Regions from separate parts of the Homo sapiens genome. Here regions 2 and 3 are each linked to region 1. Evidence: fine-mapped expression QTL. A gene starts in region 1. Each other region holds a variant in brackets. All regions are shown on one strand. Distances are from middle to middle.

Region 1 (10,238 bases):
TTCTATGGAGTTGCCTTATAATAATCCAGTAAGCTGTATATTTGTTTTATGCTGATTTCTATATTTCCACCACATTTAACAATAAAAAAATTTGTGACAACAGTCCCGGCACGGTGGCTTACGCCTGTAATCCCAGCACTTTGGGAGGCCGAGGTGGGTGGATCACCTGAGGTCAGGAGTTCGAGACCAGCCTGACCAACATGGAGAAACCCTGTCTCTACTAAAAACACAAAATTAGCCAGGCGTGGTGGCAGGCACCTATAATCCCAGCTGCTTGGGAAGCTGAGGCAGGAGAATCGCTTGAACCTGGGAGGCAGAAGTTGCAGTGAGCTGAGATTGCACCATTGCACTCCAGCTTGGGCAACAAGAGCGAAACTCCGTCTCAAAAAAAAAAAAATTGTGAAAACATTTACTTGCATTTTTCCTTATTCATGTGGTCTTTGAATAATTTAACAAAGACTGGTTGAGTGCATGCTGGGGATGCTAACAGACACTGGTCCATGCCTTCAGGAGTTTTGCGCCTGGAGAGGAAACCATTCTCTGTAACCACAAGGCCTAGAGTGGAGCAGAGAGGAAGGAGAGCTTGCAGGGCTGTGTGTAGCCCACAGGAGAGATGATGGTGGCGTGGAATAGGGACACAGCAGGAGGGAAAAGGAGAATTAGACAGGTTCCAAACATGTTTTAAAGGTAGAACCAACTGATTGGTGATTTGTTTGTGTGTTTGTTGTTTGTGGGTGGGTGGGATAAGGAAAGGAGAGGTCAGTGATGTCTTCTAGAACTGGTTGACTAAATGGATGAGGAAGCCCTTTGCTAAGATAGCTGGATCCAGAGTAGCATAAACAAATGGGTGTTTGTGGCACACAAACCCGCTCTGCTGCTGCAAAAGGAGGGGTCATCTTCTCCCCTATATTCCTAGAACATCATCTTTTGTTTAGAGATGGGGTCTCACTTATGTTGCCCAGGCTGGAATACAGTGGCTATTCACAGGTGTGATCACAGCTCACTGAGGCCTCGAACTCCAGGGCTCAGAGATCTTCCTGCCTCAGCCTCCCGAGCAGCTGGAACCACAGGTGCCTGCCACAGAGCCTGGCCTGCTAGAGCGTCGTCTTTCATCTCAGAGCTGAATGAGCATCTTGCCCACAGAAGTGCTCAGTGCTGGCATTTGAATGCTATCCATATGCAATGCATCAGCTGCAAATTCAGATGAAGAGGAAGCCACGCAGAGGCCAAGCCCTTCCCCCTAGGACCGCTGTGCCGCACCAGCTCATGGAAGTGCAGGAGCCAGGAGGAAGCGTAGCCATCAACTATCACATCAGACCCATTTGGTTTAATCCTCATGAAATTATGATATGCTGGCCGGGCGTGGTGGGTCATACCTGTAATCCCAGCACTTTGGGAGGCCAAGGCGGGTGGATCACCTGAGGTCAGGAGTTCAAGACCAGCCTGGCCAACATGGAGAAACCCCATCTCTACTAAAAATACAAAAATTATCTGGGAGTGGTGGCACGCACCTGTGATCCCAGCTACTTGGAAGGCTGAGGCAGGAGAATCACTTGAACCTGGGTGGAGGTTGCAGTGAGCCGAGATCCGAGATTGTGCCATTACACTCTAGCCTGGGTGACAAGAGCAAAACTCTGTCTCAAAAAAAAAAAAAAAAAGAAAGAAAAGAAAATAAAATAAAAAAAAGAAATTATGGTATGCTTTTGTTTCTAAACTCGGTGAAGAGACCCAGTAGCAGACAGCTTACTTGACGGACACTGATCAGCTCCACAGACTGTCCTCGCTCACTGTCTCCAAACAGCATTTTCAGTGCTCTTATGTGTATCAGGAAGATCAAAATACACTATACCATAAGTCCTAAGTGACGGAAGAGATTAGTTATTAAATTCTGGGGAAAGTTAATCATATTCACTTTGAAACTTTAGCTGAATTTGGATCTCACTAAGGGGAAGGGGCCAAGTCATCGGGGATGGGGTGGGAAGGACCGTGCAGGAAAAAGCAGCATTACCTCAAGGATACTAAACACCTGGCGTTTAGAAAGTGCATTTTCCCCATGAAGCATGTTTGACAGGGAAGCATGAGGGCTGTGCCAAGACAAAAGCAGAAGTGGTTCTAGGTGTCGAATTCATATAAACCTTGTTGTTTCAGAAGGTTTAGGTACATTTATGGATGCCAGCTCCATAACCGGTTCATTTGACTTTATTCTGTTCATTCTCAACCTCTACCACACCTCTTTGCTGTTTGCACTTTTCTTCTTTATTGAAGGAGCATGAGTCGCCTGCAGGCCTGGCACAAGCTGCTCTGGTCTCCCCGCCTTGGATGGTACCAGAGCACTGGCTGTTTCACACTTGGGCTGGGCCTACCTCACATGGCCCTACTGTCTCCCACATTGTCACCAGCTTCAGCCAGTGTCCTTTAGCCTGTGGGCAGGTCCACATTTGCACACCTTCTAAGTGGTCCCGGCCACAAGGACATAGGGGCTTGTTGGACATGCCCTTGAGGGGGTCCCAGGGACACAGATGTAACTTTCCCAGCAGGCAGTCCTGGAACCAGGAAGAGGATGGCTCCCTGGAGAGGAGCGATGACAGCTTTGCAGTGCTGGGGCCGGGGAAGGGCCAGTGAGGGGGTGGTGGAGAAGGCACAGTGGGTGGTGAAGGTTGGGTCATTTGGTCATGAGTCACTCTTTCTATAGCAGAGAAATGACACGGACCTCAAGCCAAAATCTGGGCTTGAGTTGGATTTGTTCCTTGTGAGTGTGAGAATCTGGTCCTGTTCTGGAGGCTGTCTGCTCTTGGGTTCCTTCACTTACCATTTAGGAACAAAAGCACTGACATTTCATAATTTTTTGAGGATTAAACCAAATGGGATTCATGGAATAACATATGGTTACACTGCCTCCTCCAACCCAGGAGTGCACATAGGGTGCATGCAGCAAGGTATCCCCATGCAGCCATCCTAGGGGAAGGGTCTTGTCCTGCATCGCTTTCTCTTCATCTGCACTAGCAGTCAATGCATTGCATTCATACGGCATCCAAATCACGCTGAGCGCCCAGCTCTACGAGATAAAAGATGAGGCCCTAGGAAGTGGGGAGACAACGTGAGTCACTGCGTTTGCAGCAGCACAGAAGGTCTGTGTGTCAGGAGTACCATCTCATTTACGTCACATTGAATTTGGCTTACTTTCCATCACTCACACTAGTTGAAGAATGCTGTGCCATTGGTAATCCAAAGGAAAATTTATTTTTATATATTTTCTTTTTCTTTTTTTTCTTTTCTTTTTTTTTTTTTTTTTTTGAGAGATGGAGTCTCGCTCCAGGCTGGAGTGTAGTGGCATGATCCCGGCTCACTGCAACCTCCACTTCCCAGGTTCAAGCAATTCTCCTGCCTCAGCTTCCCAAGTAGCTGGGACCACAGGCATGCACCACCATGTCCAGCTAATTTTTGTATTTTTAGTAGAGATGGTGTTTCACTATATGTTGGCTAGGCTGATTTCAAACTCCTGACCTCAGGTGATCCACCCACCTCAGCCTCCCAAAGTGCTGGAAGCCAACGTGCCAGCCTTTTAGAAATATTTTCTGTTTAGCTTTGGAATGCTTTATGTGATGGAAGGCAGCAGATTCATTCTTCTTTCAATTAAATTGACCCAATATATTGTGTTAGTCATTGTGCTAGGCTTTGAGGGTGCAAAGGCAGTTAAGACACAGACAGAAAATGCAACGAAATGGTGGTGAGCTCCATGAGAGAGGTACAAACAGAGCTAGTTCTGGTTGAGAGGGAAGGAAACTCCTGGGGAGGAGGTAGCATATCAGTCAGGAAGCGTGAGGTTTGCAGCAATAACAAACAACCCTCAGCTCTCGGTGGCTTAACATCCCAAAAGCTGACTGACTCCTCATTCATGCTACATATCCAGTGTGTGTCATTGTAGCCACTTAGGGTCACAGGTCACAGAGTTAAACCTCTCAGAAGAGAGCAGGGCATTGTGCAGTGCCTCCTTATGCTGCTATGTACAAGTGGTGTGTCCTCTCATTGGACATTTTCTTGGTTACCGCTAGCCATACTGCCATACCTAACTTCAGAGAAGAGAGAGTAACACCCTGGCCTGTGCCCAGAAGGCAGAGAGCTAAAAACATTCAATGAACAACACTAAAAAACCCCATCGGTGTCTTCGACCCAATATGCGGAAGGAGTATGAAGGAGAAGAGCTTCCAGGGGATGAAAAGCTTTATGAAAGCTGCCAAGATCAGAACGCCTGGCTGGAGAGAGGGGCTCCAAACAGGAATGCTTGGAGGCACGGTGTTAAGGGAGGACAGGGCAGAGTGTGAAGCTGGGCTAAGGAGGTTGGATTTGATCCGGGAGACACGGAAAGTCATAAAGGAGCTGTGGTTTCAGATTTACCTGACTGCTTTGTGTAGGAGAGATCAGAGGGTGGCAGCCCAGAGGCAGGAGATCTTTCTTAACCAGGCAAAGGGCTCTGAGGACTCGAATAGCGGTCTTCTAATGCGCAGGAATGGAAGGGCTATGCTTGTCAGCAGAGTCTTGATCAGATTTGGAACTAATTGGATATGAGATGTAAGCAGGGTGGAGAATCAAAGATGATTCCAGGATTTGAGCCTGGGAGAATGCTGCCATTAGAATTAGAGAAAACAGTGGAAAATGGGCAAGTCAGGGAAGGAAGATGGGGCTTGTTGATCTCAAAGCAGGGATTTTTATTTTGTTCACTCCTGTTTCCCTGTACCCAGGACAGTGCTTAGCGCCTAGTGTGTGCTTGGTAATGTTCATTGGCTACAGAATACAGTAGAACATAAATGGAGACGTCCCCAGGCGACCGCTAAGGCAGAACTGGCACTCCTTGGTGGTGTCTGTGCTGGGAGGGAGGTCTTCCTGTCTGAAGTCGTAAGATGAGACGTGCTGCCAAGAGAAAAAGCTTAGAGAAGAAAGGGATGAAACTGAAGGGAGAACTTTGGGAATCATGACATTTAGGACTAGAAAGGAGGACCGGAATCCAGGGAAAGGGGGCATTTGAGGAAGCATCAGATGCTGCAAGTGGGCGAGGGGCGTTGGGATGGCTCAGAGGGCATCTGGTGGCACAGCTCATGTCACTGGGCCTCCCCAGGGTAGCCGGGCGCAGGCCAGCAAGCGCCTCCCGCCTGGAGAACAGGAGGCTGCGTAGCCGACGGGGAGCCTGGGCCAGGGGCGGTTCTGGTTTCTGTTTGGTTTTGGGGGGTTCATAAATGCGATTTAGTCCTGTAGCAAAGTGAGCAAGGTGAAGGGGAGAGACCGGAGGCGCATGAGGGAGGAGGGAAAAGATGGTTGGCATCAAGGAGGTGGATAAAGGGCTGCCCTCCCGGGGCAGGGCCCCTGGAGGGCCGGAGGGGTGGTGAACGCCGTCGTGGTGATGGTGAGGGCCTTAGCGACCACCACCCGAGTGAGGCCCCCTCACCTTCAGGCCCAGAGCCGAGGGGAGGAGCCTCCCCCAGGGCCGGCGGGGGCGGGCAGGTGAGCCGGGCAGGTGCGCAGGCGAGCGCGGCGGGCTGGGCGGGCCGAGGCCACACCCTGAAACTACCTGCGTGGGCCGGGCCGGAGTGTGAGAGCGGAGCTGCAGCCGGAGAAAGAGGAAGAGGGAGAGAGAGCGCGCCAGGGCGAGGGCACCGCCGCCGGTCGGGCGCGCTGGGCCTGCCCGGAATCCCGCCGCCTGCGCCCCGCGCCCCGCGCCCTGCGGGCCATGGGAGCCGGCCGCCGGCAGGGACGACGCCTGTGAGACCCGCGAGCGGCCTCGGGGACCATGGGGAGCGATCGGGCCCGCAAGGGCGGAGGGGGCCCGAAGGACTTCGGCGCGGGACTCAAGTACAACTCCCGGCACGAGGTGAGCGCGGGCCGGGGACCCGGGGCGCTGGGAAGCTCCTGCCCGCCCGACCCTGCAGCGCGGCGCTGGGCTCGGCCGGCTCCCCTGGCGTGTCCGTCGGTGGCCGAGCTCTGGGCGCACAGGTGGAATTTCCTGTTCAGCGGGTGCCGGGCCGCGGGCGGGCGGGGCTGGCCGGACCTTTGGTACCGGACCGGCTGCGCCCCGCCAGGGGGAGGCGGGAAGCCCCTGGGCCTTCCTGCGCCCTCGGTCCTTTCTTTCCCTGAGTTGAAAAAAGGGGCTCCGTCTCGGCCCCTCCATGACTCTCGCGCTGTTAGTGAACATCTGGAAGAAACCAGGGGCTTGGAGTGGGGTTATTTGGGAGGAAGTGAAATTTCAGGAGGGTTTGGAGTCTCAGCCATCCTTGGCCTCTGCAGAAAGTTTCTTTCGTCTCTCTCCTTCCCCGTCAAAAGGCGCTTTGGGACCTCGCAGAGGACAACTGGGAGGCCAGGGCTTTGGCTGCCATACGGGCTGGAGCTAAGAACTCCAGAGTTGGGCTTGCCTGGGCTTCTCGAGAGGGGATGGAGCCCTTTGGGAAGGCGGCTGTATGGGAAGGGATGTGGGAACACACATGTCTTGAGCCTTTTGCGAAGTACCGAAACAGGAAGCTCTTCTTTGGCAGAAAGAACAATGAAAGACCTATTGAAAGATCTCAAAAAGATTACATGTTCCTGTATGGAGTTGGGGATGGGTCGCTAGTCACTTCATTGACGGACCCACCTAGGTGGTAGTGCCCGGGCGGGACCAGCAGCCAGGTCTCTACCCTCTCTGTCCAAGGCAGACCCCCAGGTTTCCTGGAAGGCCAGGGCATACCAGGTCAGGGCGGCGCTGAGAGGCAGGGGCTGTGTGGCAGAGAGTTTTGCTCCTCTGCAAATGATGGCCTCCCTGCCCTGCCAACCCTCACTTTCTCCCCTCCTTCCGGGTGCCCCTGGGCTCCATAGTCTCCGCCGTTGCTCCCTAAGTCAGGCCTGATTTTGGTGCTGTCTCAGATCAATTCCTTTTGTCCAAGCAGCATCCCGACCTAGGGAGCTTGCAGAAAATCAGACGCTGGGGCTTTGGAGGCTGCCTGCACCACAGACAGGACCTGGGGCTGGGCTCTGCTATTTTCTCCACTTTTCACCCTCAGCAAGGAGGAAAGCTTCCAGTGGACCTGAAGGCTTGGGCCCTTCCCCTGGCTGTGCCTGTGCCCTGCTGTGAGGCAGATTCACCTTCTCTTCCTTGCTGTAATTGCTATGTTTGTGTCCTTGCTAATTGCCTACTTGGGGTTCTAGACTCCCTGCCTCTTCAGCAGAGAACCTGCTGTTTGGAATTTGTTATTTCAGGGCAGTCCGGTGCCCCCACCCCAAGTTTGTTCTCCCTGACTTCCCTTTCTAGGACTCTCCTGCCCACACGGGGAAAGCAGGGTCTTCCTGGTCGTGTGGTCCAGCCTCCTCTCTGAGCCATCTCACCACCTGACAAGCAGCCAGGCTGGGGCTCACCTTCCACTCACCCCCAGGATCCCACATTCAGCGGACTTGTCTTGTCACCTGCAAGCCCTGGCTTTAGTTTCCCCCATCCCTGCTCATTTCCTCCTCCTCTGCGAAGCTCATTTGCTCTCTGCGCCCTTGGGCTGTTCCTTCCCCCTCTGCCATTTTCATTCTCTTGGCTTGCTCTTTGTCTTTTCTCCTGCCGAGCTTTATTGAACTAACTCAGTACCTAGTCCCATGGGTGAAGGGAAGGCTCTCAGAGACCAGTAAGATGTGGTTGTTTCCTTTAAAGAACATCCAGTCTTGAGAGCGAAACTAAGAGACGAATGCCAAAGTTAGCTGTGAGGCGGAGTGTCCAGAGGAAATTGGCCAAAGCTCATTTCCATGTCTTGCAGATTCCTCCCATCCCTGGCCTCACCAGAAATCCCAGTCCCTGGGATCACCCTGTAGTGTGTGTTTGCAGCTAGGATGTCCATCCCCGGCCGGGAGGTGTGGCTGCTGCCCCTGGGTTTATTATCTGGGTCAGCAGAGCCTGGCCCACAGGGTGCTGTTGTTTCTGGGTTCCTTGTCCCCAGTTGCATCCATCCGTGCACCCTTGTTTGGTGGTATTTGTATCTGGCTGTCCCCTTCCCAAGGCTGGTGGTGTGGCCCCTGCCCCACCCCTGCTGTTCCCATCAAGTGTTCTGCGTGGCCTTCAGAGTCCTGATGCACGTTACTGCATCTGGGGATGGTGTGAGCCCTGCCTGCAAGCAAGCAGGGAAACAGATGCCACTTCTTATGGCCATTAATGAGAGCCAGGGAGCCTGCCTCCCTGAGGGTCTTGATTCCTGTTGAGTATTTGATGGTGAATATGAAGCTGCCTTGACATCCACTGGTTCCTTTTCCGATCACAATTGCCCTAGGTAAGACTCAGCATCCCTTAGGCATCCAGAGACCAAGTTTGGAAAAATCGGATGTTGTGTGGCCAAAATCAGATGTCTAGGGGCCAGGGTGTACACCTCTGGCTATTCAGAGGGTCACCTGCTTGTTAATTTGTCAACCATTCAGGCATTCATTCACATAACAATATCTGCTAGGTAACCCACTGACTGAGCCTGTGCCAGGTGCTGGGAAATAGCAGTGAGGAAGACCCTAGACTCACAGCCCCTGTCCTTGGGACCACCCAAGGTAGTGTGGGGTACAGGGAACTGAATTCTGACTCATGAGTACTAGCTTCTCGATATGCACTGGGTGAGCACATGGCATCTCTCTAACCCAGGCTGGAAGGGCCAGGTCAGCAAATTAGGGCTGCAGGCATCTGTGATGTGGTGGCAGGAGGTAACATGCAGCCAAGACCCGGGGCCGCCTTGTCTAGCCACGTGATCTCAGAGATGTTACTCAATATCTCTAAGCCTTGGTTTCTGTGGCTATAAAATGGTGATGACATATATGTTCCAGGTTTGTTGAAAGGATTAAGAGGGGTACTTTACATGAAAGCCCTTTGTAAGTTGCAGTGTGGTGTTCAAATGATGCAGCTTGAGTTTTTGAGTTGAAAGGGACTTGAGACAAGCAAGAAGATCGTATAGTATCAGTAGGTCGCCTGTCGAGAGGCTGAGAACCCAGGCTGTCAGTGGGGCCCTGACCTCACAGAGGAGCCATCCTGCCCTGCCAAACACAGGGAAGTGCCCCCAGGATTCAAGGAACTGCTCGCCAGCAACAGAGACCTCTTCCTAAGACCTTCTGATTTTCATTCCCCTGCTTTACCCAGCTTCTAGGAGAAATATCTTTCTATGAAAAGAAAATGTGTGCCAGCTGCATATCCCTTTCTCCTTCTCATCCCCTGCCCCTCCCACCATAGAAAATTAAACTTTTATTTTGTTTTGTTTTTTAGACATGGGGGTCTTGCTATGTTGCCCAGGCTGGACTCAAACTCTTGGGCCCAGGTGATCGATCCTCCTTGTCTCAGACTTCTAAGTAGTTGGGATTACAGGCGTGAGCCACTGTGCCCACATAAAACTTTAGAGAACTGCCTTTTTTGTTCTCTAGAGCATGTGCTGGGCAGGTGTGTGCAGTGGGTGAGGAAGAGGGTTGGGAAGGCAGAAAGCAGCAGGAAGCTAGGATTGTCCTGTAGGTGGGGCTTCAGCTGCTGGAGTGGACCGGAAATCTGCCTTCTCCAGGGGCTTTCTGGAGCCTTCCCTCTGCCTTGGTCCTGAGAACACCTGGAAATTCCTCGTTTAGGAGTTGAGAAAACTGAGGAAGAGGAGAAGATGCCCCTAGTTTGATGGCTGCCTTCGCCTGCTAGCAGTGGAAATGGTCAGAGGGTGGACCTGCTCGAGCCGACTTGCTGGCCTGTTGCCACGTTGTCACCGGCTGCGGAAGGAGAACGAGTCACAGCTCCCTCCCCCTACCTGACCCTCACTCTGCTCCCTGGGAACCAGACTACCAGACTGCCTACTGCTGTGGCCAGTGGCTTCTGTCCCTCGGAACACTGTGGCCCTCAAGTTCCCTGATGTCTGCTCCTTCTCTGGTCTGTGGTTCTGCCAAGGCTGGTGGCTCATGTCTCTTTTAAAAGAGAAGTTGTCTTTGGAAGAGGAAGGGAAACGTGACAGAGTCCCCTGGGAGCCCAGGTCCTGAAGATGATGTTGCTTCTGATATTGTGCAATGATTACTGGAGTGTCTAGAATACTAATAATGATGAACACTAATAATCGTTAGCATTTATTGAGCATGGCTGGCTGCTTGTCTTTTTTCCTGCCAAGCTTCATTGAACTAACTGTGTACCTAGTCCTGGGTCAGGCATGGCTGAAGGGAAGTAAGATGTGGTCTTACTAGTCTTTGAGACCAAGTATTACCCTTCTCAGAGACAAGTGTTGTTATTACTGTTTTTTTTTTTT
Region 2 (10,238 bases), 41 kb before region 1:
TGGCTTCAAAACTCCATGATCTGGCCCTTGCTCAACTCTCCCCTGTTCTCTGTGATGTCATGCTTTAGGTTTTATCAGCATCGACCACCCCAGGGTGGTCGTGCACCATCCAGCTCTCAGCATTTGGAATGGCTTTCCTCTGCTGACTTTGCTTGGGAAGTTCTTCCTGCAAGGCTTACCTCAGGAGTTGCCTCCTTTAAAGGGAGCCTTTCCTGGTCTTATTTTCTATCCATTCATCCAGGTTTCTGTAATACTCCTTGCTGTTGCCATCGCACTTATCACACTGTACCATGATTGTTCATAGACCTTTCTCCAACTATGCTGTGAACACCTTGCCAGCAGCGACCCTGTTTTAGTCTTTTTTGTCAACCTCAGCACCATGGTAGTGCCTAGAATATCGGATATACTGTTTACGATAATTACAACACAAAAATACTACTATAGTTGGTACACAACAGAAATTTTATTTTATTGCTTTATTTCCCAAATGATAGAGTTTAAATTTGTTAGCATGTTACAGAACCAAGCAATAGTATTGTCGTTAATGAAATGCATAAAAGACAGTTTAACCATAATCCATTTGGTACCTTCTTTGCATTGTGGTCACTGAATAAAGCATTATACAATCTTTGGTGTTACTTCAGACGGTTATTCATGTTTACCCCAGCATCCATTTGGACAACTTAGTAACCAGTCGGTAGAGCTATCCATTGATATTTTTACATAAGCACAGTTGCCTGAGCCTAAACGAATAAGGGGTGACATGACTGGAGTTTAAGGGAGGGAGTAGGAAAGACATATTGCAGTTCTCCCTTATCAGTTAGATTTTGATGTCTCCCTGCCCCTTCCGCTGTCACCTCCACTTCGAGCACCCAGGCAGAACTGACATCATTCAGTTAATAATGGCCACCACCTTTTCCCCCCATAGACTCCTTAGAAAGCCTTTTGATGATAGTCTTTTAGAGTTGCTATTGCTTTTTTAAATTAAAAAATAATAGTTTAAAAATAATTTCAAATTTACAGAATGGTTACAAAAATGGCACAGAGTTCCTCTGTGTACCCTTCACCCAGATTTCAGATTTTCCAACTGTTAACATTTGATCAATGTGGTAAAAAATCTTATTCTCCCTTCCCAGTACCCCTCACACACATACTCGAGGTTTGTTGTTTTTTGAATCATTTGGCAATAAGGCAAACATGGTATCCTTATGCCTTAATACTACAGTGTGTATTTTTAAAAAGCAAGGAAATTCTCCTACGTAACCGTGGTATAATCATCAAAAATCAAGATTTTGTAGACAATATCTAGTTGATCCAATATCTCATCTACAGACCCTACTCAGGTTTCACCTGTTGTTCTAATAACATCCAGGATCTAATCTAAGATTACATGTTGCATATTTCCTTGTCCTTTGTGACATTGATTTTTTTTTTTTTAACTACAGACCAGTTCCTTTATAGAAAAGTTTTCAATTAGCAGTGATCACGCCTCCGATAAACCTCACTGGCTACGATACTGCCACTGCACAAAGCTCAGTTCCTTTATAGAATGCCTTGCAATTTGTGTTTTTCTGTGATCCTTTTGATTTATTCATTTTTGAGGGGAGTATCACAGAAGGGTTCTCACTGCATCATAGCAGGAGTAGTGCGATACCAGTTTGTTTCATCACCTGGCTAAGATGGTATCTACATTCATTTGTCTTACTATGTACACATTGTCTGCATTTGGCCAGTGGGGGCCCCGTTATGCTGGTTCCTGTGTCCTTATAACATGTCCCTATCATTCTTTGAGAACTTTACTTTCTGATACAAAAGATTCTCCAAGTCCATTCTGTATTTTCCCTACTCCACTCCTGGAGTCTGTTTTCTCTGAGACACCATGGTTTCTTTTAGTGGGGAATGCTATTTTGAAACCCAGATCTGGGCCTTAGGTGATTTGTTTTTTGTTTTTGGTTATTTTTGGACAGAGATTTGGACAGGTAGTGTTATTGCGATATGAAAACTACTAAAGTTCTGATTTAATATCTACTTTGAAAACAAAACTGGTCTCGGCAGCTTTGAGGTGCTGTCTTCTGCATTTGTACCTTGGTCTGTTGGCATAGCTCACTTTTCCATTGCAGGTGTCCTTTTGCAAGTCTTCTAGCCTTTGAGTTCATGACAGCCACTGACAGTTCACCCTGTTCCTGGTGTGGACCCCTGTGCAAGGTGAATGTTCCACTCTCGAGAGGTAGCGTGGATCCTTCACTTCTCTGAACCCTGTTTTCCCTGAAACATACCTGGGGTGACCACCAGACCTCATTACATAAGGCTGTTTTCTCCCACCTGGGTACAGCTTTTACCAGCTCCCTAAATTACATGGTTTTCCTGTTTGCACCTGGAGTGTACTTTTGTAGTATATTTATTATTATTTTTTTAATTTTTAATTTTTGTGGGTATATAGTAGGTGTCTGTATTTATGGAGTACACGAGATATTTTGATACAGGCATATAGTGTGTAATAGTCATGTCAGGGTATGTAGTAGATTTACTTATATGCATGGGTGTTGGTGTTGGAGGCTTCCTCAAGTAGGTAAACAACCTTTGTTATTTATTCTGAAAGGAATTTCAGCAACTCTGAAAAAGCTCTAAAACCTGGATGGCTGCCATAGCACTGCTGGAGAGAAGTAGTAGGAAAGAAAAGCTGAATCACAGGGATGATTAGAAATTGGCGATAAATCCTAACTGCAGCTTAAATGAATATTGTATAGGTTAGGTTTTGCTATATTGCCATATTCATTGATCAGCAAAAACAGTAGAGCTTTATGTTTGTCCAGTGACTTAGGAAATTGTGGCAATTATATTATACTCCGCTGATAAAATTGAGGATGTTACCAGCTTGAATATAAATTACTAAAGTGAGAGCAAACCATTTTCAATGTTCTGTAAAACAGAGTAATACTGATCTGCCTAGGTAAATTTTTTTCCCTAGGAGCTTCTGATGAAAAATTGTAGCAAAGGCAGAGAGTAGCAATGAAATGATAGAGCGGATGCTGGGATTGAAATGTGTTTCCTCTTTCAGTCTACTTTTTAAAAAGGGGTTTATTTTTCAATAAAAGAAGTTTGCATTGGGGGAAGGGGACAAAAACAATTATTTTCAGTTTCTGTACTAAGTTAACTGTGATTAACATTTTGGGGTATAGATGAACATTTTTTTCTTTGGATACACATGGAAATGTATATACTTTTAAATGTTTTTTCCCTAACTGTGATGATACAACGTATGCTCCTCTGTTTAAAGTTCTGTTTATTTTTATTTGGCATTTATTGAGCTTTTATTATCATGTGCTACTTTTAGGGATACATACATCTTTGAATAAAAGATAAGGTTGGGAGAAAAAAAAAAGATAAAGTTGGCCTTAAGTAACTAGCCTGAAGAAGGGGTTAGAGATACGCAGTGGGTTTCCTTTTGTTTGTTTGTTCAATGATTTTAAAAATTATTAAACCACCATGGAAAAATGTCCATGTTAAATATACACATAAGCCATATTTCTTGTAACCCCATACTATTCTGTTGTATATATGTATCATCATTTAATTAATTCCCTCTCGATGGACATTTAGGTTTGTTCTAGTTTTTTGATATTAATAACACTAATGAATATTTTAATTCACTTGCCTAGTTATTTCCTTAGGGTGTGTATCTTTTTCTTTTTTTCTTTTTCTTTTTAAGACAGGGTCGCCGTCACCCAGGCTGGAGTGCAGTGGCGCGATCTTGGCTGACTGCGGCCTTGGTCCTGCGTGTCCCCCTTTCCACCCTGCAGCTGAGATTACAGGCATTCGCCACCACGCCTGGCTCATTTTTACTATTTCTAGTAGAGATGGGGTTTCCCCATGTTGGCCAGGCTGGTCTTGAACTCCTAACCTCAAGTGATCCACCTGCCTCAGCCTCATAAAGTGCTGGGATTACAGGCATGAGCCCCTGCGTCCAGACATCCTTAGGGTATCTTTTTAGAACTGGAATTGTTGAATCAAAGAGTACTGTTAAAAGATATATATATATATTTTTAGGCCAGGCCTGGTGGCTTATGCCTGTAATCACAGCACTTTGGGAGGCTGGGATGGGAGGATCATTTGAGATCAGGAGTTCAAGACCAGCCTGACCAACACGGTGAAACCCCGTCTCTACTAAAAATAGTAAAAATTAGCTGGGTGTGGTGGCGAACGCCTGTAATGTCAGTTACTCAGGAGGCTGAAGCAGAAGAATTGCTTGAACCTGGGAGGCAGAGGATGCAGTGAGCCAAGATTGTGCCACTGTACTCCAGCCTGGGTGATGGTGTGAGACTCCATCTTAAAAAAAAAAGTTAAATTTTAGAATTTAGTTTGTTTTCAAATTCAGTGGTGTTCTTTTTTGATTTTTAGAGATCGAACAGATTGATTCAGTCATGGAATAGCTGAAGATTAGTGGCATTTAATTTTATGGTTTAGCATGGAATTAATTATTTTATTAAATTTTTGGCATTTCCGAAAAGGTTTTGATTTTAAACTTTAATTCTGAAATATTACACCAAGCATCCTGAAGAGATGAGACATAATGTGATGGTTGCTCATATGCTCACCCTCCTGATTTCAGTTCTTCAGTGTTCTGTCATGTTTGCTTCATCTCCATCTTTTTTTTTTTCTGAGACGGAGTCTCTTGCCCAGGCTGGAGTGCAGTGGCATGATCTCGGCTCACTGCAACCTCAGCCTCCTGAGTAGCTGGAATTACAGGTGCATGCCACCATGCCTGGCTAATTTTTGTATTTTTAGTAGAGGTGGGGTGTCACCATGCTGGCCAGGCTGGTCTCAGTTCTTTTGCAACATTTACATGCATCTATAAACAATGTTTTTGTGTTTTAAAATTTACATTAATGGCATCATACTGTACCTGACCTTTTACAGCTTGCTTTTACTTTACATCATTTTTTAGTTTATCCAAGGTGTTGTATAGATTGAGTTAAAGGTTGTATTTCTGACCAGGCGCAGTGGCTCACGCCTGTAATCCCAACACTTGGGGAGGCCGAGGCCGGGGTGGATCACAAGGTCAGTAGATCGAGACCAT[C/T]CTGGCTAACATGGTGAAAACCCGTCTCTCTACTAAAAATACAAAAAAATTAGACGGGCGTGGTGGCACGTGCCTGTAGTCCCAGCTACTTGGGAGGCTGAGGCAGGAGAATCACTTGAACCCGGGAGGCAGAGTTTGTAGTGAGCTGAGATTGCGCCACTGCACTCCAGCCTGGGCAGCAGAGCGAGACTCCATCTCAAAAAAAAAAAAAAAAATAGTTGTTGTGTTTCTATAGAATATAGATTAGTAGTGAAATTGCTGCTTTAAATTTTTTTGATGTTGCAGTTGCACATTTAAAAGTGAGGTTTTACAAATTAAAGTGCATTAACTGTTGCTTAAATATACATTGCTTTATGAGTATGGTTGAATAGTTCGTATAAAACTAGTTCCTCAAGACTTCACTAACATTAACATCAATAGTGCCTACCAGGTGTCAGTTTCTGTTTTTATTTTAAACAACAAACCCACATGTGGAACAATAGTTTCTGTTCTAAGCTTTTCTTGTTGTATAGATTATGTCATTTAGTCCCCACAAGATAAAGAAACCGAGGGACAGAAAGGTTAAGTAACTTGGCTAAGGTTACTCTGCTAGTAAATGACAGTGCTGAGATTGAACCCTAGCATTCAACCCTGCATATACTTTTCCTTTAGCATCCACTTTTGTTGCTTTTTGTCATAAATGAACAAAAACAGCCTAGTTAATTCAGAATAATCACATTAAACCATGTGAGTTGGTGGTTGGATGTCAGAATTGAAGTAATTTCTACTTAGATTGAGTATCAGGGTTGTTCATTCTCGTAGAGGCAGATTCTAGCTTACTGTTGGTATTTTTGCTATTTTTAAGCAATGCTTTTAAGTCTCGTTGATTGCTAAAGCCTGTTTGCAGGTACTGCCTCCCCTAGAGCCTTTGGGGTCCTCAAGGGTAAGCAGCATGTCAGGCTCACTTTCGCAATCCTGCTTCAGTGTCACATTGAGCTGTGTGATCCCAAAGTCCCTGTGCTAGCAGTGCTGAGAAACCTGACTGCCATTTGTAATGCAGTTTTCATGTGGGGGGACTGTTACACTGCTACAGCTTGTCATGTCAGGAGCCCATCTTCCCCTACTTACACATCAGCAACTCCCTTTCTCTTACCACTGGGGCGGTAGAAAGACTGACTTCAGTGCTTGCGCCCGAGGCCCAAGGCAGAGGATCCTGAGAGACTCATCCATGATGGCGAGGCTGGGTGGGTCTGTGTAGACTTCCCACTAGCTGGGCCCTAAGCCCTTTCTTAGACCACATTACTTTCTCATGATATTTTCAGGGTTTTCCCCCCTTAACCTCAGAGGTTAGTCTGCCAGCTGCATCTTCCTGCCACTGCTTCCTGCATCTCTTCCTGGGCTAAGCACCCTTCTCGCCCTCTCTTCCTCTCCCTCTACACTGTGTGGAGCACATGGCAGACGTATGCCCAGTGTAGATTACTGAGCCTTACCTTACACTACTGATCAGAGTCTTGGGGTGATCATCCAGTGATGTGTTGTATATTTCTAACTTTTTATTGTGGCAAATTACAAACATGGCCAAACAAGAGACGATGATACCGTTCACCCTCACGTACTGGTTGCCCAGCTTTGTAACCACCATCAGTTCATGAGCCACTCTTCCACCTTCTATAGGCCCACTCCCTCACAACCCTGATTATTTGGAAACAAATCACATACCATCTTTTCCCTGTAAATAAACAGCTATGTGTATCTTTCTCCCGACTTTTTGGGACAAGTTTTAGAAAATGTAATAGTGAATATCTCTGTACCCTTTACCTAGATTCTCCAGTTTTACCTGATGTTTTTCTCTCTCTGCATCTTATATGTATATTTTTGTGTTGCTAAACCATTTGAAAGTAAGTTGGGATATCACGACAGTTCATTTCTAAGTATTTCAGCTGGTTTCTCCTAAGAGCCAGGGACATTCTTCTATATATAATGACAATACAGTTGTCATGTTTGGAAATTTTCCTAAGTGTCCAACTAGTGTTTTTTATAGCTTCCTTTTTAAAAGGATCACATACTACATTTCATCTAGGATAGTTCCCTAGTCTTTCTTTAGAAACAAAAACTTTCATGACAATGATATTTTTTAAGAGTCCATGCCATTTGTTTAATGTAATGTCCCTGAGTTTGGATTTGTCTTAGTGTTTTAGCATGATTAGATTCAAATGATAATATATTTTGGCAGAAATACTGTGTAGGTGATATATTATTTTTAGGACATCACACACACCAGTTTGCTCGTTATCAGTGGTGTTAAATTGGTTATCTGGCTGAGGTAGTTTGCCAAGGCTTCCCACCGTAAAGACACCTTTGCCCCTTTGTAATTAATCATTGATTATTCTTACTGGATTCAATTATTACATCATGTTTTGTCTAAAGATTCATCTGTACTTGAGTAGAACACCTGGTTTTAGTTTCTTGGGCATTTGATTACAGAGGTGTGGGCAGGAATAAGGAAGGCAGAGCCATGTGGGGAGAGTAGCTGTGTGTGTCTGAGGCGGGCATGGAGGTGATCCTATTATATTCCCCGTCACGTGTTGCTGTAGCCCTGCAGTGGGACTGCAGTCAGGGGGCTTTTAAAAGGTCCCTGGCATCATGGCTCTGACAGATTGGTGAGTTCTTGTGGCTGCTTGGCTAGAACTGTACCATCCAGTCAGCCTTTGAAGGTACGAGATGTGCATCTGCTCGTATACATGAGACTGCTCCTGGCTGTGTAGACTATCATCATAAACTTCAGTGAGGGGCATTTTCACCTTGAAATCATGGTCAGATCCGCTCTGACAAAGATTCTCTTTTCCAGTGGGTGAATTTGTAAGTGATGTCCTGCTAGTTCCAGAAAAGTGCCAGTTTTTCCACAAAGAGCGGATGGAGGTGTGTGAGAATCACCAGCACTGGCACACGGTAGTCAAAGAGGTAAGAGAACTCGGGGGGAAAGTCAGCTGCTGTTGTATCTGTTAGGAGGGAAGTAGCACTTTTCTCCAAATCTCACCATGCTTTTAAGTTAGTTATGTTTCCCCCATTATCTCCTTAAGGTTTACAATTACTTCTGTCTTATAAGTTAGAAATATTTGGGAGAGAAGTAGGTATTTGTGTAGGAGAGCTCAGTGTTGACAGTCAGCTCCTGAAGTTGAGGATGTTAAGGAGGTGGCTGAGCGAGAATACTGTATGCTGCTGGTGAGGCTCCCAGGAAACCATCCTAACCCTAAGGCCGGCATGGAAATCGCCAGTGATAGAAAATATAGGTCTGGACATATGCACAGGCAGGACTGCATGCCATCTCACTTTTCTGGTGGCAAGAAGTACCCTTTCTTGTCTTCTGTAATTAGGCTGGCTCTGCTCTTTGGTCAGTAATCTTCCTTTGGTCAAATACTGAAGTAGTGCTTGCACCAGTGGTGAGTATCTATTAACATTGACCACCTTATCTGGCTTTAGTCATTATTAGAAAAAAATGCTCTCTTCCTGACTTTTTTCCACATTTGGGATTTCAGTATTTTTGGACCAGATCATGTTTCCCCATTGTAAATTAAAATTTATAAATCTTACAATAATATTATTACAATTTTTTTTTGACAGAAAATGTATGTGTTCATAAGAGAAAGCATTGCTAAGTGATTTGATAAGGGTTTATTTTGGAGGGTAGAGATCGGAGTGTATTTGACCACGTTTACTCTGGAGTATGTTCTGATGTGGCCTGTGGGTTTCTTTTAGGCATGTCTGACTCAGGGAATGACCTTATATAGCTACGGCATGCTGCTCCCATGTGGGGTAGACCAGTTCCATGGCACTGAATATGTGTGCTGCCCTCAGACAAAGATTATTGGATCTGTGTCAAAAGAAGAGGAAGAGGAAGATGAAGAGGAAGAGGAAGAGGAAGATGAAGAGGAAGACTATGATGTTTATAAAAGGTAACTCTTCTACTTTGAACTGTGAAGTCGTTTTGCCTTTTTGTTAGCCCTTCTGTAAAGACGGCTGTTGGCTGCTAGTCCCTCACTTCTGGATAAACTGGGCATTCCTTTGTTCTGCTAGAGTTGATTAAGCTTGCATTTCATTCTAGCCATTGCCAATCACAGGAGTACCTGTGATTTTTGTGTTTACATCATTCTGAGCTGTTATTTTCTGCAGGTTACTATGATATTTTTTAAGAGTCCGTGTCATTTGTTTAACATAATATCCCTGAATTTGGATTTGTCTTATTGTTGTATCATGATTAGATTCAAATGTTCACAAATACTTCCCGTTTGCTGATGTAGCTGGGCCCCAGGGCTTAGTGGCACGGTGAAATGTGCGTTGAGCTTATTTCCTGCCTCTGTTTTTGTGTTTCAGAATAGAGAAGGGACCCATTGTTGTGCTTTGCACATAGGAGCTATTAACCTTCCTTTTTTTCTATTTTGGCCTTCAGTGAATTTCCTACTGAAGCAGATCTGGAAGACTTCACAGAAGCAGCTGTGGATGAGGATGATGAGGATGAGGAAGAAGGGGAGGAAGTGGTGGAGGACCGAGATTACTACTATGACACCTTCAAAGGAGATGACTACAATGAGGAGAATCCTACTGAACCCGGCAGCGACGGCACCATGTCAGACAAGGAAATTACTCATGATGTCAAAGGTAACCCCATGTAGAGCCATGGCTTTGAAATCCATGTGGTAATTATTCACTTAGACTTTTGCATTGCGTCTGTCACAGGTAAGTCAGTCACAGAAGGAAAGGTGTGGTACCTCTGCACTGAAGGTGAGTTCAGCTCTCCAGTGCAGTGATGGGATGGTGCCGTCTTAACAAAGTGGGCAGGCAGGCACATCCAGGGAGAGATGTAGGATTGAATTAGAGAACGGGGACTAGAGAGTAAGAGAGACAACGTAGTCCGCCCTTCAGCAGGATTCTTCCACATTCATCCTAAAATGTTCCCTCCCCAAGGGGAGCTCCCCTCTTCGATACCACTCAAGTTCTGGCCTCCTAGAATAGAAATGGTTTTCTTGGTTTTTCTTTTCCTGCTTGTCTTCTAATCTGTAGGCTGCCCTATTTGTCCAGATGTTTTAGTTGGGAGGGTGAAATTTATTGACCTGCTGGTAACAGATTGGGGCCTGCAGTTTTTTTTTTTTCTCATCTTGCCAATTAAAACACGAAAAGGTTGCAG
Region 3 (10,238 bases), 37 kb after region 1:
GTGGTGGCGCATGCCTACTCAGGAGGCTGATGCAGGAGGATCTCCAGCCCAGGAGGTCGAGGCTGCAGTGAGCGGTGATTGCACCACTGCACTCCAGCCTGGGCAACAGAGAAAGAACCTGCCTCAGGCCACATGAGGAAACACCAGGTTGGTCAAGGGGTAACAGGAATGAGGGGAAAATGTAAGCAAGAGCCTTTTATGGGCCGGGCATGGTGGCTCACGCCTGTAAGCCCAGCACTTTGGGAGGCCAAGGCGGCTGGATCACTTGCGGTCAGGAGTTTGAGACCAGTCAAGCCAACCTGGTGAAACCCTGTCTCTACTAAAAATACAAAAATCAGCTGGGTGTGGTGGCGGGCGCCTGTAATCCCAGCTACTCGGGAGGCCAAGGCGGGAGAATCACTTGAACCTGGGAGGCAGAGGTTGCAGTGAGCCGAGATCGTACCACTACACTCCAGCCTGGGCAACAGAGCGAGACTCTGTCTCAAAAAAAAAAAAAAAAAAAAAGAGCCTTTATATGGTTTACACAGAAAAGGCAAGACAAATCAGGGTGAGAGGTTTAGAACTGGCTTGTTTGAATAATTTCAGTAGGCTCCGGGGCATAGGAGCTGTCCCTAGTTCTCTGATACTTGGGCCTGGGGTGGTTAGGGCAAAGAATAGTGGCCCTGAGTGTGAGATCCTTTCGGAGGAGGTGGGGCTGGGCCCCCATAGGTGGGTTTGCATAGGGAAGGTTTGCTTGCAGGTGAGTCCTTTCCTATCTCTAAGCATTGGCCAGCCTTCCACAGTCAGCAGGGCCTCAGATGTCAAAGCACCTGCATTACAGAAAACGGAAAGGCGTGGTTAATGCACCTGTGGGATACCCCACGTCAGGGTGGGGCGTACCTCGCAGAGGTGCTGTGCGTGGTGGGTGAGCCGCCTCTCCTGCACTCGCTGGGCCAGAGCCTTCCGTGGCTGTCTAGGGAAATGAGCTCGGCGGACGTTTCCTGATTAATAATGGGCTAAAATTCAGGCCAAGAACAACCTAGAACCATCTGCCGCCACAGCTTCGTAACCAGGACTTCTTTTCCATCTCTCTAATTTATTAATTGTACAACAAAGAAGTACATGTTCCCAGTGGGAGAAGGAAATCGGCAAGCAAAAGGAAGACTAAAGTCACTCGTCATCTTACTGTCTAGAAATAACCACTGTTAATTCTTTTTCTTTGAGATGGAATCTCGCTCTGTCGCCCAGGCTGGAGTGCAGTGGCAAGATCTCGGCTCACCGCAACCTCCGCCTCCTGGGTTCATGCGATTCTCCTGCTTCATCCTCTCGAGCAGCTGGGATTACAGGCATGCGCCACAACACTCAGCTAATTTTTTTTGTATTTTTAGTAGAGATGGGGTTTTACCATGTTGGTCAGGCTGGTCTCGAACTCCTGACCTCAGGCAATCTGCCTGCCTTGGCCTCCCAAAGTACTGGGATTACAGGCGTGAGCCACAGCACCCGGCCAAATTTTTGATGTCTATTTTCCCAGCCTTTTTTGCTGTGTGTGTGTTAAGAAATAGGATTATCCCGTGCATTCAGTCTCATTACCTGCTTTAACAAATGAAGTATATTATGATGGTCTTTCCAAATCAGTCACCCTCTCTCTCAGGGTTTTTATAAGGTTGCATTGTTTAGAAGGAGGGGACACAATCAGGATGACATGGTTGTGAGCAGTGTGGACTCTGGAGCTTGAATGCCTGAGTTTAAATTCTAAGCCTGCCACTTATTAACCATGAGATGTTGGGCAAGTTACTGAACATCTCTGTGTCTCAGTTTCCTCACCTCTGAGATAGGGGTAATAGTATCTACTTCATAGAGCTGTTAGGAAGATTATGAGTTAATAGATTTAAAAGCACCGAGAACCATGCCAGGCATGTTTTTTTTTTTGAGTCTCCTTGTCACCCAGGCTGGAGTGCAGTGGCGCAATCATAGCTCACTGTAACCTTGAACTCCTGAGGCTCAAGCAGTTCTCTGGCCTTGCCCCGGAGTAGCTGGGACTGCAGGCAAGCGCCACCATGCCCAGCTAGTTTTTTTGATTATGGAGATGAGGCGTTACCCAGGCTGGTCTGAAACTCCTGGCCTCAAGCAATTCTCCTGCCTTGACCTCCCAACAGGCTGGGATTATAGGCCCGACCTTGGCATGTTCTTAATAAATGTTGATTGTTACTACTGCTGTTGTTCTGATTGAGCCCACAGTTTATTTAATAAATCCTCTGTTGTGGGCATGTATTGTGTCTAGGGTGTTGCTCTTTTTTTTTTTTTCTGACAGTCTCGCTGTGTCGCCCAGGCTGGAGTGCGGTGGTGCGATCTCGGCTCACTGCAACCTCCGCCTCCCGGGTTCCGGTGATTCTCCTGCCTCAGCCTCTGGAGTAGCTGGGATTACAGGCGTGCACCGTGATGCCCAGCTAATTTTTGTATCTTTAGTAGAGATGGGATTTCACCATGTTGGCCAGGCCGGTCTCGAACTCCTGACCTCAGGTGATTCACCCGCCTTGGCCTCCCAAAGTGCTGGGTTTATAGGCGTGAGCCACTGCGCCCGGCTGGGTGTTGCTCTTTGATTGTGACAAAGGTGAACTGTTTATCACTAGCGCCTTCCATCAGTGATTGTGACAAAGGTGAACTGTTTATCACTAGCGCCTTCCATCAGTGATTGTGACAAAGGTGAACTGTTTATCACTAGCGCCTTCCATCAGTGATTGTGACAAAGGTGAACTGTTTATCACTAGCGCCTTCCATCAGTGATTGTGTGGGGGAGGGACTTACTTGAATGAAGGTCTTTTTGACTCCATTCTTGGCCTCTGTGGATGGGACCAGAGTTAGGGGTGGGGTCCTCAGGCACCTCTGCCTGAGAGCCTGGTTTGGGTGTGTGAGAAGCTTGGGTTCTGTCTGCTCTTCCTAATGCCCGCCCTCTGCCCCCACAGGTTGTGTGGCACCTACCCTCCCTCCTACAACCTGACCTTCCACTCCTCCCAGAACGTCCTGCTCATCACACTGATAACCAACACTGAGCGGCGGCATCCCGGCTTTGAGGCCACCTTCTTCCAGCTGCCTAGGATGAGCAGTAAGGAAGGGCAGGGCAGGGCGGGACTGCCCTCGGGCCACAGAGAAGGGGAAGGCCTTAGTGGGGGTGACCTGAGCTTAGGAGGCCACAGGCTAGACCCTGTGGTTGGCGAGCTGGCCTAGGTCAGCAGCAGAGGCTGAAGCTTGAGCCAAAGGCATCTGGCCGACCGCCTGGGTCAGGAGCCCTCCTGAAGCTTCGGCACCCGGCACCTGGCCTTCCTGGCTGTGCACCTGCTGTGCAGCATCCACGCGTCCAGGAGGCAGCTCCAGGCCTCAGGCTGCAGAGCCCTCGTCCGCCTGCTCGGCCGGGCAGGTTCCTGATCCTCTTGCTTTCTCCCACCTTCCCTCTCAGGCTGTGGAGGCCGCTTACGTAAAGCCCAGGGGACATTCAACAGCCCCTACTACCCAGGCCACTACCCACCCAACATTGACTGCACATGGAACATTGAGGTAGGAGCTATGGGGCGTGTGAACGTGTGTGTGTGTGAGCATGTATGTGCACGTGTGTGTGTCTCCCTGTGCAGATGTGTGTGGATGTGTGTGCATGTGTTTGCATATGTGTGCATGTGTGTGTGTGTGTGTGTGTGTGCGTATGTGTGTGTGTGAGACAGAGGTGGATGGCAAATGAGGAAGACAGAAGAAAAGGAAGAGGAGATCCTTTATCAACCCCAAAGAGGCAGCCAGATGTCGTGACTCACACCTGTAATCTCAGCACTTTGGGAGACCAAGGCAGGAGGATCACTTGAGGCCAGGAATTCAAGACCAGCCTGTGTAACATAGTGAGACCTCATCTCTACAAAACACTACAAAAATTAGCCAGGCAGGTGATACATGCCTGTAGTCCCAGCTACTCAGGAGGCCGAGGTGGGAGGATCACTTAAACCCAGGAGTTTAAGGCTACAGTAAACTATGACAGTGCCATCGCACTCCAGCCTGGGCAACAGTGAGACCCTGTCTCAAAAAACAACAAAAACAAATAAACAAACCCCAAAGAGACCATGTGTCTTAGGGCCCAGGGTGGGGTCAGGTCTTCCTGCAGTGTCAGGCAGACCCAGACTCTTATCTTAGCTCCTTGTCAGGTGATGGAACGACCTGGGCAGTTGCTGAAGCTCCCTGGGCCTCAGCTTGCCCCTAGGTGAAGTGAGGGTGATAGTGCCTGGGTCTCAGAGGCGCCGTCA[G/A]GAAGAAATCAAAGAAGGTGTGTGAGACAAGAGAGTCGCCTGTCCGTGCCGCTCACGCCATCCCAGCCAGAGCTGCCTCCCTTTCCTTTCTTTAAAAATGCCAGGAGGGCCGGGCGCAGTGGCTCACGCCTGTAATCCCAGAACTTTGGGAGGCCAAGGCAGGTGGATCACGAGGTCAGGAGTTCGAGACCAGCCTGGGCAACATTGTGAAACCCTGTCTCTACTAAAAATACAAAAATTAGCCGGGTGTGATGGCGGGCACCTGTAATCCCAGCTGCTCGGGAGACTGAGGCAGGAAAGTAGCTTGAACCCGGGAGTCGGAGGTTGTGGTGAGCTGAGATCTTGCCACTGTACTCCAGTCTGGGTGACAGAGTGAGACTTTGTCTCAAAAAAAAAAAAAAAGAAAAGAGGCTGGGTGTGGTGGCTCGTGCCTGTAATCCCAGCACTTTGGGAGGCCGAGGCGGGCAGATCACCTGAGGTCAGGAGTTTGAGACCAGCCTGACCAACATGGTGAAACCCCATCTCTACTAAAAATACAAAAAAAATTATCTGGGTGTTGTGGCTTGTGACTGTAATCCCAGCTGCTCAGGAGGATGAGGCAGAAGAATGGCGTGAACCCGGGAGGCGGAGGTTGCGGTGAGCTGAGATCTTGCCACTGCACTCCAGCCTGGGCGACAGAGCAAGACTCCATCTCAAAAAACAAACAAACAAACAAACAAACAAACAAACACGCTGGGAGAACTTTGCAACCTGTCTTGGTGATGGAAGGCATACCATCTCTCCCTGGTCCATGCCGCTGCCTCCCTTTGACGTCCTCAGGTTCAGGGAGGAGGGAGGGGAACTGCACATTCCCAGCAGCCTCTCTTCCCTCAGGTGCCCAACAACCAGCATGTGAAGGTGCGCTTCAAATTCTTCTACCTGCTGGAGCCCGGCGTGCCTGCGGGCACCTGCCCCAAGGACTACGTGGAGATCAACGGGGAGAAGTGAGTCCCCGGGGGTATGGGGGCTGCCGGGCCCATGCTGCAGGGGGAGGGGTCCCACCAGACCCCCAGCCCCCCGGCTCCCAGCTGTCCCTCCTCACCTTGTGCCCCGCCCCCCCTCCAGATACTGCGGAGAGAGGTCCCAGTTCGTCGTCACCAGCAACAGCAACAAGATCACAGTTCGCTTCCACTCAGATCAGTCCTACACCGACACCGGCTTCTTAGCTGAATACCTCTCCTACGACTCCAGTGACCGTGAGTGAACATTGTTGGGAGGAGGGCTGGCGGGGGCCTGCACCGCATGTTCTGTCTACCCTGCATCTCGTTAGCATCGTGCTTTGCTGATTCTAAAATGCTGGAGAATGTAAGAGCATCTCACCCCTCCCGTAGCTTTGGGAGGAAAACACGCTACCTTTGATGCATTAATGAAAGCAGGCTGGCTGTGAGCGCTGGCACACACTGTGTCCTTCTGGGTTGCAGTCCCAGCATGAGGTACCTGCGGCTGGAGACGCCCCTCATCTGAGCTTCCCCGGCCATCTGTCCCTCAGGCCCACCTTCACCGTGACTTTGATCATCTGTGCTTGCCTCTGTGGCCTGTTAGCACCGTTAGGATTCACAGTGTAATTCTGAGACACATGAGGAAGTGCCATTGGCTGTATGAGCAGTGGTTTTTCCACATATGCAATGTGTTTTTATTTCAACCCTGCGTCATAGAATAACCTTGGGAAGACATTTAACTATGCTTAGGAATCCAACTTTAAGGTAAAATTCAAGGGCCTGGCTCACCACCAAAAGTACACTTGGATGAACCAACGCCTTTGATCTAAACACTTACCTGTGACCGAAGTGTCCCTGTGCCGAGGCGGTGACAATGGTCTCCTTACAGCTTTGTCATCTGCAAAGTGGTCAGATGCCTCCGGATTTCAGAAACATTGAAATATGGAAAATGTTTAGGGTGAAGGAAGTGCGCGATGCCGCACTACATTTGGATAGGACACATCACATGCATCGGGGACCAGCTGAGCGTCACAGGCGGGGCCTGGCCCTCAGGGGCACCAGGCAGCCCAGCACACAGGGCAGGGCAGGGCAGGGCCTGCGACCAGCTGGCCTCTCTGCAGGGCACCTGGGGCTTCCTGGGCTTCGATCCTCAGTGGTGGGGAGGGACCCTGCCAGCCCAGGTTGGGGTCTGTGGCCAGCCCTCTTCCCACACTAGCTGCGGGTGCAGGAACCCCTTTGTCACAGCTTGGTGGGCCTGGGTAACCCCTGCCCTGGGCCACAGCACCTGCCCTGCTCCTGTGTGTTTGTGGCTGGGAGGTTGGCCCGAGGGAGGGAGCCGGGAGCCAGCGGAGGGAGGTGGGTGGGTGCTGGGGGCCTCAGGCCTGCCTGTGCCCGCAGCATGCCCGGGGCAGTTCACGTGCCGCACGGGGCGGTGTATCCGGAAGGAGCTGCGCTGTGATGGCTGGGCCGACTGCACCGACCACAGCGATGAGCTCAACTGCAGTGAGTCAGGCTGGGAGCCCCGGTCTCCCCACCCTCCTTCCCCACCCTGCCCGCGTCCCATGGCCCTGCTGGCTGACTGCCGAGGCAGAAAGGCCGGAGGTGGTGGGAGTTTTTGCTCTCGGCCCTGTGTAGAGACCTCTGGCCCCACTCCCCACCCTGCCATATGGAGATCTTGGCCTGTGGGGCAGGTGGTGGGGTATCTCGGAAGTGCTGAGGTCAGCTTGGTAGCTGGTGGAGCAGGGCCCCTTGGGCCTCTCTGTAGATCAGAAAGCGGTCCCCAGGTAGCTCTGATCGCCTGGGCATCCTGGGGAAGCAGTGAGTGATGAGGGCCTCACGGCCGACCTCCCCTTACCCCACTCCAGGTTGCGACGCCGGCCACCAGTTCACGTGCAAGAACAAGTTCTGCAAGCCCCTCTTCTGGGTCTGCGACAGTGTGAACGACTGCGGAGACAACAGCGACGAGCAGGGGTGCAGTGAGTGCTGGGGAGGGGCTGCCTGGGCGGGCAGGTGGGCGGGGCGACTGACGGTGGCTCCTGGTGGCTGAGTCCTGGTGCCTCTCCAGGTTGTCCGGCCCAGACCTTCAGGTGTTCCAATGGGAAGTGCCTCTCGAAAAGCCAGCAGTGCAATGGGAAGGACGACTGTGGGGACGGGTCCGACGAGGCCTCCTGCCCCAAGGGTGAGGCCCGCCCCACCCATCTTCCTGTTGGGGGCCTCGCCCCTGGAGGAGGCTGCCCTGAGCACACGCACATGCAGGACGCCCCGAGTTTAATGAACACAAACCACCTGTGTGTTAAGTGTGATGAGAAAGGGCTCTGGTTGGGGGAGAATTTTCCAGAAGGTGGAGAACCTGTAGCAGGGCAGGGAGGCCAGTGGGCGTGGGTGGGGCAGGCCTGGGTGAGGGGGTAATGTGCAGGGGCCATGAGGCGCCATTGGTGGTTTCTGGCTTCTGGTCGGATGCTGCAGAGGAATTGAGCCCCTCCCTTGTCCTCCTCCTTGAACAGTGAACGTCGTCACTTGTACCAAACACACCTACCGCTGCCTCAATGGGCTCTGCTTGAGCAAGGGCAACCCTGAGTGTGACGGGAAGGAGGACTGTAGCGACGGCTCAGATGAGAAGGACTGCGGTGAGCAGGGCATCCGAGTACGGTTGTGCAGGTTGTTCACTGTGTGAAGTGCCCACCAGAGGGTGCACCTGGAGGTGCAATCCCGCCAGCACCTCACTTAGCAGCTCTGTGCTTGGGTGAGAGGGTGTGTCTCCTGGAGGAAAGGATAGCCTTGCCAGTTGGCATGAAGGCACCACCCCACGGGCTGGCTCTGGTCTTGGAGAAAGGCCCGTACGGCCAGCATCTCAGCGCCTCTGTAGCATGGCGGGGTCGTGGCTGCAGTGCGTTGCTGGCCCCTGCTGTGTAGACACAGCTGTGGAGCAGTAGCCTGGAGAAGAGCGGCCCAGCTCACCCAAGCCCAAGGCAGGGTGTCACCCCTGCCTGCCCATACTTTAATCTGCAGCCTCTGTGTTTCAGAAGCGTTGGCTGGCCACAGGTTAGATTTGAGCACAGCTCCAGCGTTCTGTGACCTCACATCAGCGGTTCATTCGTCCCTCTCAGAGCTGTGGCCTTCAGCATTCAAAGGCGCTTCTCCCTGCTCCATGCTGCCCCCTCCCCTGTGATGTCCCAAATGATGTCAAGTCAGGCAGATGACACCCAAATCAAAGTGAAGCTGACCAGCCAGCCTCCGGAGGCCCTCGCTGCATTTGTGAGGGAGGGGGAGGTGGGAAGATGAGGGTTTGAATTTGGGAGCGGGGAGAAGGAGGGGCATGGTGGAAGGGAGTCTGTGAAGCTCAAAGATAGTTTTGGGGGTCCCTCACGCCCTGGCCACGCCAGCAGTGCTGTGCACGCCAAAAGCTGGCTTCCCCACACAGGGTCTCCTGGCACACACTGCATGTCCCCTTGTGGTTTGATGTCCCCACCTTGACTTGCTGTCCTCTGGTTCTCTGCTCCCTCTGCAGACTGTGGGCTGCGGTCATTCACGAGACAGGCTCGTGTTGTTGGGGGCACGGATGCGGATGAGGGCGAGTGGCCCTGGCAGGTAAGCCTGCATGCTCTGGGCCAGGGCCACATCTGCGGTGCTTCCCTCATCTCTCCCAACTGGCTGGTCTCTGCCGCACACTGCTACATCGATGACAGAGGATTCAGGTGGGTCTCTGGGTGGGCAGCAGGGAGCCTCCTTGCTGGCCCTTTGCATCTGGGAGTAATGCCAGGATAGGTTGGCACCGAGGCAGGGCACTGGAGGGGTGGCCACATGTGTTAGTCCATTCTTGAGTTGCTCTAAAGAAATACCTGAGACTGGGTCATTTATAAAGAAAAGAGTTTATTTGGCCCATGGTTCTGCAGGCTGTATAGGAAGCGTGGTGCCAGCCTCTGCTTCTGGTGAGGGCCTCAGGGAGCTTCCATCCATGGCAGAAGGTGAAGGGGGAGAAGGCACATCACATGGCGAGAACAGGAGCAAGAGAGAGCAGGAGGAGGTCCTAGACTCTTAAGCAGCCAGCCTCGTGTGAACTCAGAACTCACCCATCACCATGGGAAGGGCACCAAAACATTCATGAGGGAACCGTGACCAAAACACCTCCTACCACGCCCCACCTCCAACACTGGGGATCCCATTTCAACATGAGATTTGGAGGGGACAAGCATCCAAACCAAATGAGCAGATATCCCAGGACGGGGCTCAATAACAGTAATAATAAAAACTCACTGTATTCGGTGCCCACTTGCAGCCAAGTGCTGTCTCTGTGCCTCTCCTAAAACCCCCTAGCAAGTTAGGCAGCTTGATTGTATCCTCACTACAGAAAGTAAGGTTCAGAGAAGTAGGGACGTTTGCTTGGGGTGGCACAGCTGTTAAGTGGCAGAGCCAGACTTGAGCACAGGTGTGGTCTCCGGTGAGTCTGCACTGTGCAACTCCTCGGATTGGCCAACGTGAGCTTTGGATTCATGCTCCAGCTCTGGCTTGCCGGTGGCCCTGGGCAGGTTATTCAAACTTCCTAGGCCTTGGGTTCTTCACCAATGATAGTGACAGTATCAGCTCCCACCCTTAGAGTTGTGAGAATTAAATACAATGCTGTACTTGAGACACTTTGCGCTGTGCCTGGCACATAGTAGGTGCTCAGCATGTCATGGCCTCAGACACACAGACAGATGAGAGGCCTGGAAGGGTCACATGGGCATCCCAGGAACAGGGGCACAATGCCGGGCTGCGCTATTTGTGTCTTAGCTCCTGGCCTCTCTGGGCGTCTGGCTGTTGGCTGAAGGAAGGAGTGTTAGGGCCTGGCTTGCCCTGAAGAGGCAGGCACAGGGGCATGGGCCTTCCAGGAGAATCCAACCTCGGAAGAAGGGGATGCGCTTTCTGCTGGCTGCACGCTTTTCCATGGTAGGCAGCTCCAGGAGCAGGTGACCCAAGCCCTCAGCTGCCCTTTGCAGGGAGGAGAGATGGGCCCACAGCAGGA

Evidence for each region. PIP is the estimated chance that this variant, and not a neighbour inherited with it, causes the effect. A credible set is the group of variants that fine-mapping cannot tell apart.
Region 2: its variant is the best candidate, but not a certain one, in a credible set for the expression of ST14 in whole blood (GTEx, PIP 0.90).
Region 3: its variant is the best candidate, but not a certain one, in a credible set for the expression of ST14 in lung (TOPMed, PIP 0.75).

Annotation. Positions count from the first base shown.
Region 1 is chr11:130,154,198-130,164,435 of GRCh38, forward strand. It overlaps ST14 (ST14 transmembrane serine protease matriptase), which reads left to right and starts at 5,585. Exons shown (of 19, transcript NM_021978.4): 1 at 5,585-5,863. The coding sequence starts at 5,783. RefSeq lists silencers at 5,464-5,583, 5,664-5,733 and an enhancer at 6,821-7,320.
Region 2 is chr11:130,112,802-130,123,039 of GRCh38, forward strand. It overlaps APLP2 (amyloid beta precursor like protein 2), which reads left to right. Exons shown (of 17, transcript NM_001142276.2): 4 at 7,905-8,017; 5 at 8,813-9,009; 6 at 9,504-9,712. It also overlaps the pseudogene LOC124902850. Among named protein-coding and RNA genes, the nearest start is that of ST14, 42 kb to the right of the region's middle. RefSeq lists an enhancer at 6,089-6,168. The variant C/T (reference allele first, on the strand shown) is at 5,078.
Region 3 is chr11:130,191,207-130,201,444 of GRCh38, forward strand. It overlaps ST14 (ST14 transmembrane serine protease matriptase), which reads left to right. Exons shown (of 19, transcript NM_021978.4): 8 at 2,943-3,082; 9 at 3,434-3,531; 10 at 5,133-5,242; 11 at 5,364-5,494; 12 at 6,635-6,739; 13 at 7,102-7,212; 14 at 7,302-7,415; 15 at 7,741-7,863; 16 at 8,745-8,931. Among named protein-coding and RNA genes, the nearest start is that of ST14, 37 kb to the left of the region's middle. RefSeq lists an enhancer at 6,900-7,401. The variant G/A (reference allele first, on the strand shown) is at 4,260.